Linked DNA regions of Homo sapiens. The protein of the gene in region 1 purifies or fractionates together with the protein of each later gene. This does not show direct contact. Each region holds a gene or a part of one and is shown on either strand. Other genes may lie near its edges.

Region 1 (7,237 bases):
TATTTGTCCCTTATTTTCCCACCATTAAAAGCTCATTTGATGTTCCCTTACATATCCTGCTTAATTTCTCTGAACCTTAATTTCCCTGCTATAGCATAAGTATGTCAGATGGCATCCTTAAGTTTCTTTCTATTGACTGAACACCCCCTCTGGTGTTGTGTTTATAAATAGTGGAGACAAAAATGCAGCAAGACAGGAGAAAGGAAAGCTCTGGATTGTCAACTCATAAAATAATCCAGACTGCGATTACCAACTCCATTTCAGCGGCTGCATCTTTTTTTGATTCTTCTATGGGCTTAAGGTGGTGGTAGTTATATGGGTGAATGTAAAATATCTTTGTGGAATTTTAACTCTACAGATTTTAAATTGTTGATTGGATTGCAGTCTCTTTGTAGTACTGCCTATAGAATATTCTCGGTGCCTACCAAGTATTTGACTACTTCATTCTGGCCTAAATATATGGAATGAATTTAGGTATGAATGTTGCTAACATGATTTCTTGTTGCAGACAAAACTTACCTGGGGTCCCTACTTATGGTTTTACATGCTTCGGGCTGCTACATCAACTCTCTCAGGTATTGCTTTTCTGCTTGAATATTGTATAATTGCTGTAACATGCTTCAGCAACAGGAACTTTGCTAAATAGGATGTTTCCAAACTGAAGGAGAAACAATAGGGAGTTAATCACTGTCCTCAAGAGCTAGCTAGCATTGGGAGATAGTAACCTAACTTGTACTTCACATTAAAACATTCTTCAGCTTCCAATATAGTTTATTTTTTGAGGAATGAAAAATGACTATGTTAGTTTAGATATGGTTTTCAAGTTCTTTTTTTTTTTTTTTTTTTTTTTTTGAGACGGAGTCTCGCTCTGTCGCCCAGGCCGGACTGCGGACTGCAGTGGCACAATCTTGGCTCACTGCAAGCTCCGCTTCCCGGGTTCACGCCATTCGCCTGCCTCAGCCTCCCGAGCAGCTGGGACCACAGGCGCCCGCCACCGCGCCCGGCTAATTTTTTGTATTTTTAGTAGAGACGGGGTTTCACCTTGTTGGCCAGGATGGTCTCGATCTCCTGACCTCATGATCCACCCGCCTCGGCCTCCCAAAGTGCTGGGACCACAGGCGTGAGCCACCGCGCCCGGCCTCAAGTTCTTAAACCCTTTCTCTTAACAGCTATTTTGCTGCTTTGTCATTTGGTTTCCAATTGATAACATTCTCAATCTGTCTCACTGCTTATTCTAAAGCCTGTATTATAGTTAATTTATATTTCTATTTCATTAATATTCCATTTCTTAAATTGAGATGTGACTAAGTCATATTTGAAGGAAATGAATTATCAACTTATAACTTAATAATGCTAATTTAAAATATAGGTTTTAAATTATGAAGCTTTCTTCTGCTTCCATTTTTAACTCCCTCATAGCTTTTTATCACTTTCTGCATTTTATTAGAGCTAATTGTGAATAGTAATTGATTCAACAAACATTTACTGAGCACTGAATATATGCTAGACAGGTTGGTGTAATGGAAAGAGCATGAGCTTGAGATTCAGACCTAGCTTTGAACTTTGGATCTGCCTTATCAGTTTGGGTTAAGTTCTTTAACCTCTCTACGCCTAACCTTTCACAGTACCTGGCACATGGTAGGCACTCAGTGAGTATTATACTACAAGCCATTCCCCTCCTCCAGCCCAGTGATATCCCAGCTTTCTGAGTATACATTTTTCTTTTTTGAGACAGAGTCTTGCTCTTTCATCAAGGCTGGAGTGCAGTGGTGTGATCTTGTCTCACCGTAACCTCCACCTCCCAGTTTCAAGCTATTCTCTTGCCTCAGCCTCCTGAGTAGCTGGGATTACAGGTGCCCACCACCATGCCCAGCTAATTTTTGTATTTTTAGTAGAGATGAGGTTTCATCATGTTGTTCAAGCTGGTCTTGAAGTCCTGACCTCATGTGATTTGCCTGCCTCAGCCTCCCAAAGTGCTGGGATTATAGACATGAGCCGCCATGCCTGGCAGTATACACTTTTCTTAAAGACATAGATATATAACAGATACACCTAGTGATAAGTATTCTAATACAGACATGAAAAGACTTGTTGGGAGTTTTGAAGCCACCGGTACTTCTTGAAGAAAATCAGGGAAGATATACAGAAGATAGATCTATTAGGTTTTTATAATCTCCTTGAGAGCAGGAACAGTAACTCTTGTATTCCTACAGTGTCTTACACATAGAAAGTGCTCAAGAAATGTTTATAGAATTATATAAGTCTTTTAACTTTTGTATTTTCAGTGTGTGACTTCCTTGGAGAGAAGATTGCATCTGTTTTGGGTATCAGCACCCCAAAGTACCAATATGCCATTGATGAATATTATCGGATGAAGAAGGAGGTATGCCTCCTTTTTACATTTTCTTGATTCAGTTTGGTTTGCTATGGACTTGATGGGTTGCATAATGAGCCTATGTATTTTCTAACTGCCCAACATGTAGCTCTCTTATGCTAGGCATTTCATTCTAGAATCATTAATTTCTTTTATCAAAGTAACATACATTTTGGAATTCCTTTAAACTGGAATTTTCCTATGATCTGTGTGCAAAACTAAGCTAGATTTCATTGTCTTAGTGCTATGTGAGATGCCTTATATACATTATTTAATCTTCACATGCCTCTCTTTGGATTATCATTCTAATTCTAAGATGAAGAAACAAGATACTTAGAGCACATGGACTGGATATAGGAAAAGTGGAGTGGGTTTGGCACAGATAAAAATTTAAGTACAAGAAATGTGTATGTGCCAGGTGTTAATGCACAAAAATTTGAGGGCAGTTTAAAAGTAGTGAGGTCTTAAGGTGAGAGTGAAGTGAATTTTGTCTTAAAAAATAAAAGCCTTTAGTGCTTAAGAGCATGGGCTCAAGAACCAAAGGGCTTGAATTCAAAATCCGTTCTACCACTTAAAACTTTGTAACCTTGGACAGAACACTTAACCCCTCTATAAGCCTCAATCTCCTCATCTTTGTAATGAGGAGAATTGCAGCATCCATGCTCGGGGGCTGCTCTACAGATTAAATACATTAATATATAAAATGTTTAGAACAGCACCTAGTGAGCACAACAAATATTGGCATCTGCTATTCTTCAAGCAAATAGAGGGCAGCAATTCAGGTAAAGCTAGAATGTAGAGGCATGAAGGTACATTGTTATGGTTGGGGAAATGGCAAAAATATAATAGTTTATTGTCACTGGAGCATAAGGTACAATGTGGGAGTGACTGGACATGAGCCTGGAAAGGTCAGCTGACTTAATATTTGTCATATGGTTTCAAACCTGTTTTATGAACAAATAAGTATTTCTTAACACTGTAAGCCTTGCTTAGAGCCTCATTACCTCATCTGGGCTATTATACTAGCCTCCTAAATGGTCTCTATTCTCAAGCAAGCCCCAGAGTAATCTTCTGGGGTTACTCACTGTGTACTGACTACCCGTTCTGCAGGGTCCAATACAAATGCCACCTACTCAATGAATTTAGTAGTTCTGCAACTAGAAATTATTTACCCTTTCAAAATCTGTACATCTGTCATAATACTGTTTTTACATGTCTTAACTTCCCTACTAAGTTGTAAACTTCTTGAGGGTAGGTGCTGCCTTATCTATGTATTTGATGCTTATGGGAAAACTAACTATGCTATATATCATGTAGTAAATGAACCAACCTATTCAACCGAATAGACTGACACCCTACAATTGAAGTGATACAGTTGAAGCTAACTTTTTATTTATTTAGCTTAGACTTAATCTGAAAAAAATAAAGTCCTTGTCAAAGTTAATTCAGGTCTCATCTACGTGATGTAGTGCTGGACCCTGTTTTAAAAAGTAACCTCTTTTGGGCTGAGCGCGGTGGCTCATGCCTGTAATCCCAACACTTTGGGAGGCCGAGGTGGGTGGATCACTTGTGGTCAGGAGTTCGAGACCAGCCTGGCCAACATGGTGAAACCCTGTCTTTACTAAAAATACAAAAATTAGCTGGGCGTGGTGGCAGGTGCTTGTAGTCCCAGCTACTCAGGAGGCTGAGGCAGGAGAATTGCTTGAGCCTGGGAGATGGAGGTTGCAGTGAGCCACTGCACTCCAGCCTGGGTGACAGAGCAATACTCTTTCTCAAAAAAAACAAACAACAAGAAAAAACTACTTTCCTTAAAATGTTTTACAGTGGTTATTTCAATTAGAGAGCAGGAGAAGGGAAAGTATGTCTTAATTAGACCAAACTGATTTGAACATGACACTTTTTTTTTTTTTTTTTTTTAAACATAAGCTGACAGTGGGGAAAACAGCACTATATACCTTTTGGACTTTCGTATTTCAACTATTCTTGATATTGCTCCTTTTTTTTAGGAAGAAGAAGAAGAAGAAGAAAACAGGATGTCTGAAGAAGCAGAAAAACAATATCAACAGAATAAATTGCAGACTGATTCCATTGTTCAGACAGATCAACCAGAGACAGTGATATCCAGCTCATTTGTGAATGTCAATTTTGAAATGGAGGGAGACAGTGAAGTAATTATGGAAAGCAAGCAAAATCCAGTCTCTGTCCCACCATAAAATGAAATGACTATCAAGCTTCAAACTCTTAAGTTTTTTTTTTTTAATACAAAAACTTTCACATTCTTTATTCAGTGGGACTTAATACAATTATTTATATTTTAAATTATTAAAGTATCTGGAAAGGGAAAATGTTTTCTTCATTTTTAGGATCTATCTAGCAAAAGCCAGATCTGAAATTCAGATATTTGTACTGTTTTTACTGTGTATAGAAATTAGTGCTTTGGTTTTAAAATGATCTTTTAAAAAAGTTAAGGACATCCTAGAGCCTTAATAGTTAAGAAGAGTTAAATTATCAAGCCTATTTGTGCATTTGCTTTTTTTGAAAAAGGTAAGTTGCTGATTAAGTCTAATTGGAATTGATAATTCCATAGTCTTAGATTAAAATGAGGATATTTTCTCCTAGATTTTCTCATGTTATGCCATGCATTTATATATCTAACCATTAATTTCACACTAAGGATGCTTCACCATATAATAAAAGGAGCAAGATGGAAGCACTTTGAATTTTCTTTCATTGAGAATAACTGTTTTATGTAAGAATCTGTATTTATAACACCAGATATTAAGATAGGCTTCCATTTTTTAATGCAAGCCACTTACTTAATCTTGTATTCTTTTTCAGGACTCAAATAACTAGCTTTGAACATAATATTAAAACACTACTTATAGAATAGATTTATTAATGTTAATACCTAGTGAATATCCATGTGGCATCCTGGTTATGTTATCGGTTCAGCGTTAATCCTATAGAAAAGTGGTTTGGAGGGGATTGGGGGATAGTGGGACAGGTATAGATTTAATCCATCAGGAGCAATTAGATATTGTATAAGGTGCAATGATAGCCTAATGAAATTACCCGTCATTCATCATTTAGAAGTAGCAACAGTGAAGACTGGACAGTTTACTTGAATCTGGTTGGCCACTCCTCTACCTACTTGGTTATTTGTAAACCTTACAAATGTATATATTGTGAAGCTAATTTTGAAAATATTCCTAAATATGGCCAGGTACGGTGCTCACACCTGTAATCCCAGCACTTTGGGAGGCTGAAGTGGGCAGATTACTTGAGGTCAGGAGTTTGAGACCAGCCTGGCCAACGTAGTGAAACCCCGTCTCTACAAAAATACAAAAATTAGCCAGGCGTGGTGGTGCACGTCTGTAATCCCAGCTGCTCGGGAGGCTGAGGCAGGAGAATCACTTGAACCAGGGAGGTGGAGGTTGCAGTGAGCCAAGATTGCACCACTGCACTCCAGCCTGGGCGACAGAGTGAGACTCCATCTTGGGGGGAAAAAAGTATATATATATACACACACACAGACACACACACACACACATATATCTCTAAATGTGTGTATAGAACCTTTTATCAGTATAACATTGATTTATAATTAAATGTGGGTGAGGAAGAATGTGTGGAGTGTTTCAGAAATTTTGATCTTAAAAGCCTTTTCAGAAACTCAAAGCTTTCAGAAATTAATAGTTATATTAATAGCCTTCTAAACAGCATTAAGTTTTCAATTTTAATATATCTATATAAAATATAGTGTCAAAGAAAGTAACATCAATATAGTGGGTCTGTAATGGAAATCTGTCAATGAACATGAACTGAGTTCTTCAACTACAGGTTGAAGGATAATTAAACTTTTCATTAGGAGTGTTCAGCTACATGGATTCATGGAATGGTGGTTCATAGTAAGTGATGGTAATCTTTTTATTCATGGGTGTAAACCCTTTATAACTTAGTGCTTAAAATATTAATCTTTTGATTATATAATGTCCCATGAATTATAGTTTACCAATAGTTCTAAAACATGCTAACCTGACCTTTTCCTTCTAATTTGTTTTTAACTTCATTCGAGATAGTACCTCTCACTCACAGATATTTATTTGGTTATCAAGTGAAGATAGGTGTGTCTAAAAGTGATCTTCTGAATCCTGTCTCCCTAGAGGTACTAGTATCTAGAGTTTACCCAGAAAATTTTATGATTGTAACAAAAGGAAGTAGTGACTTATGAAGGTTTTGTTTCTTGAATTTTACTTTTGCTACTTGTCCAATAGTGGCTAGTTTATGTTTATCAATATAGTTATTCACTGTGCCTTAAGTTTATACTTTGTTTATGCAAACTATAAAATTTCCCATAAATGTATTCAATGGTTTGTCTTACTTTAAGCCTCTTTCACTCACTTTTTCCTATCTCCTTTTCAGTCCTTTTAAGAATTCCAGTTCCAGCTGGGCACGGTGGCCCACGCCTGTAGTCCCAGCACTTTGGGAGGCCAAGGTGGGCGGATCACTAGGTCAGGAGTCCGAGACCAACCTGGCCAACATGGTGAATTAGTAGAGATGGATTTCTACTAAAAATACAAAAATTAGCCGGGCATGGTAGCAGGTGCTTGTAATCCTAGCTGCTCGGGAGGCTGAGGCAGGAGAGTCACTTGAGCCTGGGAGGCGGAGGTTGCAGTGAATGGAGTTTGCACCATTGTACTCCAGCCTGGGCGACACAGCAAGACTCGTCTCCAAAAAAAAAAAAAAAAACAGAATTCCAGTTCCTTCTGGATCATAGTTCATATTTACCTTCTTCTAATCTTTCAGCATCTCATAAAAACTAAATGTAATGTATAACTGAAGTCTTTATCCTGAATTAACATA
Region 2 (7,630 bases), on another chromosome or scaffold:
TAGGGTTGAGACATGCAGAAGTATAAGAAAAAGTCAGTTTCGGCCTAGGGAACACCCTGAGTAAAGACACATAGTTAGAAAGCCTAGGATGTGTATGGAAAACAGTTTATAGCCTCATTTGACACTACTTTTCAAGTAGTTTTTGACAAATATTTGAATTACTTGAGGAAAAGTAGTGTCAAATGAGGGTATAAACATCATTGACCAGATCCTAGAAAGTCTGAAATATCAATCTAAAATAAAACTTCATTTTATTTAGCTGATGGTGGGACGCCATTGAAAAAATATTTCAGTCTTTGATCTCCTGAGAAAAGGATTTATTTATTGATGTAGCTAAAGGATGTTGTTATCAGATAGTTTTATTTATAAAGTAGTTTTAAGGTGAAAAGCTAAGGACATGCTAAGCAGACAGTTTCTCAAACAGAAAGGATTGCATATAATGCCAATTTGTTAGCTAATAATATATTTCTATTTTTAGGTATCCAGAATGCTACCAGGGGGACTTTTAGTTCTTGGAGTATTTATTATTACTACTTTAGAACTGGCAAATGATTTTCAAAATGCCCTGCGTAGAGTAAGTTTGATATATCGAAAATTCTTAATGAAATCAGTTATATGTTATTTTTACTGATTATGAGTATGTGTAATGATTCTAGGCATATTTACATTTGTTTTCCATAATTCTTTTTGTTGGGGTTACATTGAAAAAGCTTTTGTCACTCAATTGCTTGGATATCTTGAGTGTAAAAAATGTTTATATTTTTAAAAACTACACATTTTATTTATTATTTTTTCCATGGGTAATTTTATTCTTTATTTAGTACACTACCCAAAACAGGGCTATCATCAGCCCATATGGCATTTCATACAAATTTGAAAAAGCTATTCTTTCCTCAAGTTAAAAAGTTAAATTATTTACTTCTCAATAATAACCATGACTAATGACAGTAATTCCATGTAAATTATGCAAACAAATAATTCATTGTAAAATATTGAAAAATTCAAATGATTAATTATAATATTAAGAACTCAAAGTCACTTGGATCTAATAATTTGTTGTAAAAAAGGCATCTTTGTGGAAGTAATTCTTTTTGACAGAAAAACTACATATTTTAAAATAATCTTTATTTTAGAGGTAATTTCTGACTATTAGGAAACAAATTATAATGCTTTAAACAGTTTTTCTTATGCAATAGCAGTATTCTGTCACACCTTCCATTTAGTACCTAGTGATTACTGTAACATGAAATTAATAGGTGCTGAAATTCTTTACCTTCTTCTCAATTCTCCGGAGATCCTGAGAGTAAAACATAAACAATCAGATTATTCCTGGACACAGTATCTATCAGAAATCTCCTGTGTTTTTTGCTTAATTGCTGCACCAGAGAATTGGGTAACATAGTGTAAAAGTAAATATGAAGGTCCACATGCTGTTTTCCCTTAAACCCAAACCTAAGGTAGATTCTGTGTAGCCAGCTCTTTTAGCATTCAGGATCCACATGAACTTTTTGAAGGGTATTTCATACCCCAAAAGAGGGGGAACCTTAAAATCTTGAGACATATAAAACCCAACCCCAACAGTATCCCAGAAAAACATTTTTTAGGTAAAAAATATACAGCTGAGAACTTCAGATGTTACAGATTTTTTCAGTCTTGTAACCTGTCCTGTCAGATGTCCCAGCCTCAAGCCTTTGATATTTGCACCTAAGGGAGTAAGGGAAGAAAATGGAGATATTCTCCTCCCTGCTAAATTGTTTAACCCTCTGCCAACTTTTCCATCTTAAATAAATTTACCTTGTTTACAATTGTTCATTCTCTTTGGCATTTTGAAATTTAACCGAAATCTATGCGTATTTAATATTAATAGCATTCATTGTGCAACCTTTTTTGGCTGGTGCTGAATTGAGGGGGTTGAATGTGGGCCCAGTGCTAGAGAGATACAGCCAGGCCCACTTTCCTTGCTTTTGTATCTTTTGTTCCTAAAAAGTATATAAAACTTTAGAAATGCTTTATCTCTGACATTACTGAGTTTCAATTATCTAATTGTTTCCACTGGCTACACTGACAAACACTACAAGAAACAGCCTTATAAAACTTGTCAGTGTCACCCATTATTGTTAAGGACTTTATTCATCATATTACATTAATATTGTGTTTCCGGAAGAATTTCTTTTTATATTATGAAGAAGGTTGTGCCTCCTCTGATGATTGTTTTTAGCTTACAGACCATGTGAATTAGGTTACAGATTAGATTTCTCTCTGCACATTATTGTTAGAAAGCTTAGACCGAAATGTATTACCACCCCTTACATCAAGTATGCATTTTTATAATTCTTATTTCTGACACAAATTTATCTCACTATTCTACTTTAACTTTCAATTTGTTATTACTATATTTTATATGTTGTTATATATTGCCTTAAGTCTTGTGTGACGTTTAAATAAGAAATGCTAAATGGGTGACATGCTTGATTTCTTTAGTTAAAATCACTTATCATTTCTCATTCTAATTAAAGTCTCTGTTCTATAGTTTATATAAATTCTAGTTGCCCCAAATTAATTTTTTGTGTCCAGTTAATCTCTAATGATAGTGAATTAAATTTTTTTATTTAAACCCAATTTTTCTGTAATTTCCTAAAAGGAATTCAAAAATGTTAGTAATTAGCTCCAGTCTTTAATTTGAAGAAAAGAAAAATTAATGGTGGCACACACCTGTAGTCCCAGTTACTTGGGAAGCTGAGGTGAGAGAATCACTTGAGCCCAGGTGTTCAAGGCCAGCTTGAGCAACATAGTGAGACCCCTTCTCCAATAAATAAAGAATCATGGAATTTTAAAGCTAAATGAGAGTTGGGGACATTATAATTGCCTATTTCAACACTCATCTTTTTTTTTCATTTTACATTCAATTAGTGTGTATTTTTCTCTCTTTCAGCTAATGTTTGCTGTGGAAAAGTCTATAAATAGAAAGAGATTGTGGAATTTCACAGAGGAGGAAGTCTCAGAACGAGTGACACTTCACATTTGTGCTTCTACAAAAAAGTATCTTTTGTTCAGTTTATGGTTTAAAAGTACAAAGTACCAAAATAATATTCTTGCAAGGTTTTTTTGCTATTTATTTAAATCATCATTTAAAAAATAGGCATAGTTTTGTAAGATTTTTCTGTAAATAACATGGAATTAGAGCCACCAATAATAATAATAGCAATAATGGTTGTTAATCATGTCCCAAGGTGATAAAAAGCTTGAGATCTGTAATATGAAAGACTCAGGATTCTGAATTTTTTACCAGCTATCTGCCCTGTACATCCAAGCACAGCAGATTCCCTACAGAGATAAATGCCTAACTGATGGCTTAGGCAAAGTAATGTTTTTATTATGTTAAAGTTTTCACCTCCAGTTTCTATAGATAAGGATGTACAATTCAAAGCACAGGTGCACAGAGCTGGATGGTATAGGACATCGGAGAAATTCTTATGTCTTTGGCTAAGATGAAATGACACTAAAAGCCAGTTACACGGCCTCTTACCAGGGCAAGAGTACCTCCCAAGCAAGGGTCATCCTCACCAAAGGAGTGACACGATCCATGGACTTCCAAAGACAGAATTTTAAAAGTGACCATTCCTGCAGAAGCAGGGCTTTTTTTTTTTTTAACAACAACAAAAAAAATCTTTAGTATTTAACTGCAAAGTTTCATATACAAGCCCTTTAATCCAATAAATAGTCTCAGGTTTGACCTCATATAAAACAGTGGTACTTTTTCTTATGGAGAGTGTATATTTGAGAAGAATCTCACGAGTGCTTTGATTCTATTTATTGCAATTAGCGGGATTCATAAAAGGTAGGAAATGATTTTCAAGCACCGCAAGTACTATAGTGATAGCAGTTTGTATGTATGATTATATATACACATATGTATATATATGCACACATGTACATATATGTACGCATATCTTTAAAGTGTTATGATTTTGTAAGAACTTTTGGATGCGTGCATTTTTTAGTTTATTTTTTGATAGTTTATATTCTTTTAGTTACCAATAATGCCTTTTTTGGTTATTTCTGTCCTTAATTAGTGAAGAATATTTTGTCGAACTTATGATATCCATGATCCAAAGGTAAGAAATTTACTCTTTAAAGATTTTTCTGTGTCACAAAGTATTTTCAATCAAAATTCAGCTTTTATTTAGTTTTAATAATTTCCATTGCCATCACTTCCTATTGATGCCTACAAACAACTGTAGTTTTTATTTTGAAATATGATTAATTTTATTACAGATAAGGAAAACTTTTTTGTGCGTGACAGGGTCTCACTCTCTTGCCCAAGCTAGAGTGCAGTGATGCAGTCATAGCTCACTGCAGCCTCCACCTCTTGGGCTCGAGGGATCCTCCCACCTCAGCCTCTTGAGTAGCTGAGACTATAGATGTGCACCACTGCACCTGGCTAATTATTTTTGTTTTTTGTTTTTTGTTTTTTTTGATAGAGATAGGGTTTCACCATGTTAGTTATGTTTGTCTTGAACTTCTGGGCTCAAGTGATCTGCCTGTCTTCGCCTCCCAAAGTGCTGAGATTACGGGCTTGAGCCACCACGGCCAGCCAACTTTTTAAAAAATTGTTAAAATATCTTTGTTAATCTCCTCCTACCTTGTTTGTGTATTTAGTTTTATATTTGAGAGGCTGGTAGTAAAAGTGACTGAGGACTTTTGGTAGCTGCACTGCCTATTAAACAAGCTATGTGTATTCAGCAAAACCCAGATTAGCACTTTGCTAATGCATCTAAAAGGGTTGTGAAAAAGTAACTTTGCAGTGTCATTAGCAAGGATGGGACAGAAAGGAGAATGCCTGCCACCTAGGAGTTGCTCAGTGATTATTTGCTTCAGATCAGAATCTTCAGTATTGATACTGTTGAAGCTAGAGGATCAAAGGACCTTTCAGAATTCTAAACATGGAAATTTCTGATTCTTTTTCTGCCTACCATTGGGAGGAGAAGTATTGCCAAGGATGTATTGAAGAGTACTGAACTTAACACATGCTTTATTTTGTGTTTAGTTCAACCTATAGTCTTTTGATCAAGGGTTTAGCCATATATGTTAGATATGAGTTTGTATGCGTTATTTAGGTTGTATATTTAATAATGTTTTGTTGATCCATGTATTTTATCTAGACTACATCATAGTTATTTTTCTCCCTTCTCCACTGCTAGAGTTCAGCAAGACCAGCAGATTGGAAGTATCAAAGTGGATTATCATCCTCATGGCTTTCTTTAGAGTGTACAGTTCACATTAATATTCACATCCCACTTTCTGCTACTTCTGTCAGCTATACTCTGGAGAAAAATACAAAGGTACCAGGGTAAAATGAATTTTCTTCAGTGATTGCTGAGTGAACAATCTGCTTTTATTCTGCTTACATGTGTCATTCATTTTACAATCCTCAAAAATTACATTCTGCTTACAATGTTGTTATGTGAGTAACTTATTACCGCAGCCAAATTAGAAATTTTTAGAAATTTTTAGAAGTGGAACAATGTCATAATACTAGTATATTCAGTTTAATAATAACTAATAATTTAGTTGTTAGACTAAATATACTAGTACTTATTATGTGCTGATTAAGTATTATTATGTGCTTTGTCATTAAACTAAATATAACAGTATTCATTAATTAACATGTAAAATGTAATTAATGTAAGAAGCTATACTGTTTGGACTTTTAGCTTTCTCTTAGTACTTAGGTTTTTTTGTCTTCCTTTTTCCAGTTCTTTTTTGTATTTCTATACCATTCTTTTATTTTTATCTTATTTTTCTTCATTTTTCCCATTGAAGATGTCAAATAGAGCTTTTTTTTTTTATTTTTTAGACTTATTTGATGCTTTTTTCTCACTTTTTTTTTTAAGGTAGTGGGCATTAAATTTTATTTAACTGATCATGTACTTAATAACCTCCTGAGTCTGTGACATAAATGTTATTCTGGGATAAAGATCAGAAAATAACTATTATTAAATATAATAAGGTATCAAGAATGGGGGTATACTTTTTTTTAATTTGTGAAACTAGATTTAAATGCTGCAGTAATGAGATTTAGGGATTTTAATATTTCAATTTATTAGGTGGAACAAAGTAGATTATAGGAAGTTTAATTGAGATGGCATTGTATCTGAAAGATTTCCATGTTGTGTTTCTGTTAAGAATGGACTTACACGCTGGGCCAAGGAAATAGAAAATGGTGTTTATTTGATTAATGGACAAGTTAAAGATGAAGATTGTGACCTATTAGAAGGACAGGTAAGTTAAGAGAAAATCATCTTATTAAATTGTTAGTGCTTAAGGAAAAATAAAACATGACTTATTTTTAGTCCTTGCCTACAAGAAAACTGATTTCATCTACCTCTCATTTCTGATTTCTGATTTAAAGTAAAAGGCAAATGTTTTTCTTAGAAAAACAACCTCATTAAAAAGTAGGCAGAGGATATGAACAGACACTTTTCAAAAGAAGACATACATGCAGCCAAGAATCGTATGAAAAAAAACTCAGCATTACTATCGGTAGAGAAACACAAATGAAAACCACAATGAGATACCATCTCACACCAGTCAGAATCGCTGTTATTAAAAAGTCAAAAAATAACAGATGCTGGCAAGGCTGCAGAGAAAAAGGAATGCTTATAAACCGTTGGTGGGAGTATAAATAAGTTCAACCATTGTGGAAGGCAGTGTGTTGATTCCTCAAAGACCTAAAAACAGAGATACCATTTGACCCAGCAATCCTATTACTGGCTATACCCTCAAAGGAATATAAATTGTTTTATTGTAAAGACACATGCATGCATTATGTTCATTGCAGCACTATTCACAATAGCAAAGACATGGAATCAACCTAAATGCCCATCAATGACAGACTAGATAATGAAAATGTGGTACATATACACCATGGAATACTGTGCAGCCATTAAAACAGAACGAGATCATGTCCTTTGCAGGAACATGGATGGAGCTGGAGGCCTTTATCCTTAGAAAACGAATGCAGGGGCCAGGCATGGTGGCTCATGTCTGTAATCCCAGCACTTTGGGGGGCCGAGGTGGGTGGGTCACTTGAGGTCAGGAGTTTGAGACCAGCCTGGTCAACATGGTGAAACCCTGTGTCTACTAAAAATACAAAAGTTAGCTGGGCATTGGTGGCAGGTGCCTGTAATTGCAGCTACTTGGGAGGCAGGGGCCAGGCGTGGTGGCTCATGCCTGTAATCCCAGCACTTTGAGGGGCCAAGGTGGGCAGATCACTTGAGGTCAGGAGTTCAAGACCAGCCTGGTCAGCATGGTGAAACCCTGTCTCTACTAAAAATAACAAAAATTAGCCGGGTGTGGTGGCAGGTGCCTGTAAGCACAAGCTACTCGGGGTGCTGAGGCAGAAGAATGGCTTGAACCTGGGAGGTGGAGGTTGCATTGAGCCGAGATCGTGCCACTGCACTCCAGCCTTTGGCTACAGAGTAAGACTCCATTTCAAAATAAAAGAAAAGGAAAAGAAGAAAACTAACAGAGGAACAGAAAACCAAATACCGTATGTTCTGACTTATAAGTGGGAGCCAAATGATGAAAACACATGGACACATAGAGGGGAAAAACACACACTAAAAGG

The links. Proteins that work in one complex are often made in the same cells at the same time.
Region 2: the proteins of FAM177A1 (region 1) and ODR4 purify together in Homo sapiens (affinity purification with mass spectrometry; 3 studies listed by BioGRID and IntAct, with this or other methods). This does not show direct contact.

What each region holds. Positions count from the first base shown.
Region 1 is NC_000014.9:35,076,642-35,083,878, forward strand, and holds the end of FAM177A1 (protein FAM177A1 isoform 1 precursor), read left to right. Parts: intron 1-508; coding exon 509-575; intron 576-2,285; coding exon 2,286-2,383; intron 2,384-4,380; coding exon 4,381-4,587; 3' UTR 4,588-6,737; downstream 6,738-7,237.
Region 2 is NC_000001.11:186,385,510-186,393,139, forward strand, and holds part of ODR4 (protein odr-4 homolog), read left to right. Parts: intron 1-478; coding exon 479-574; intron 575-2,932; coding exon 2,933-3,039; intron 3,040-4,078; coding exon 4,079-4,115; intron 4,116-5,201; coding exon 5,202-5,342; intron 5,343-6,186; coding exon 6,187-6,282; intron 6,283-7,630. UniProt on the Homo sapiens protein: May play a role in the trafficking of a subset of G-protein coupled receptors.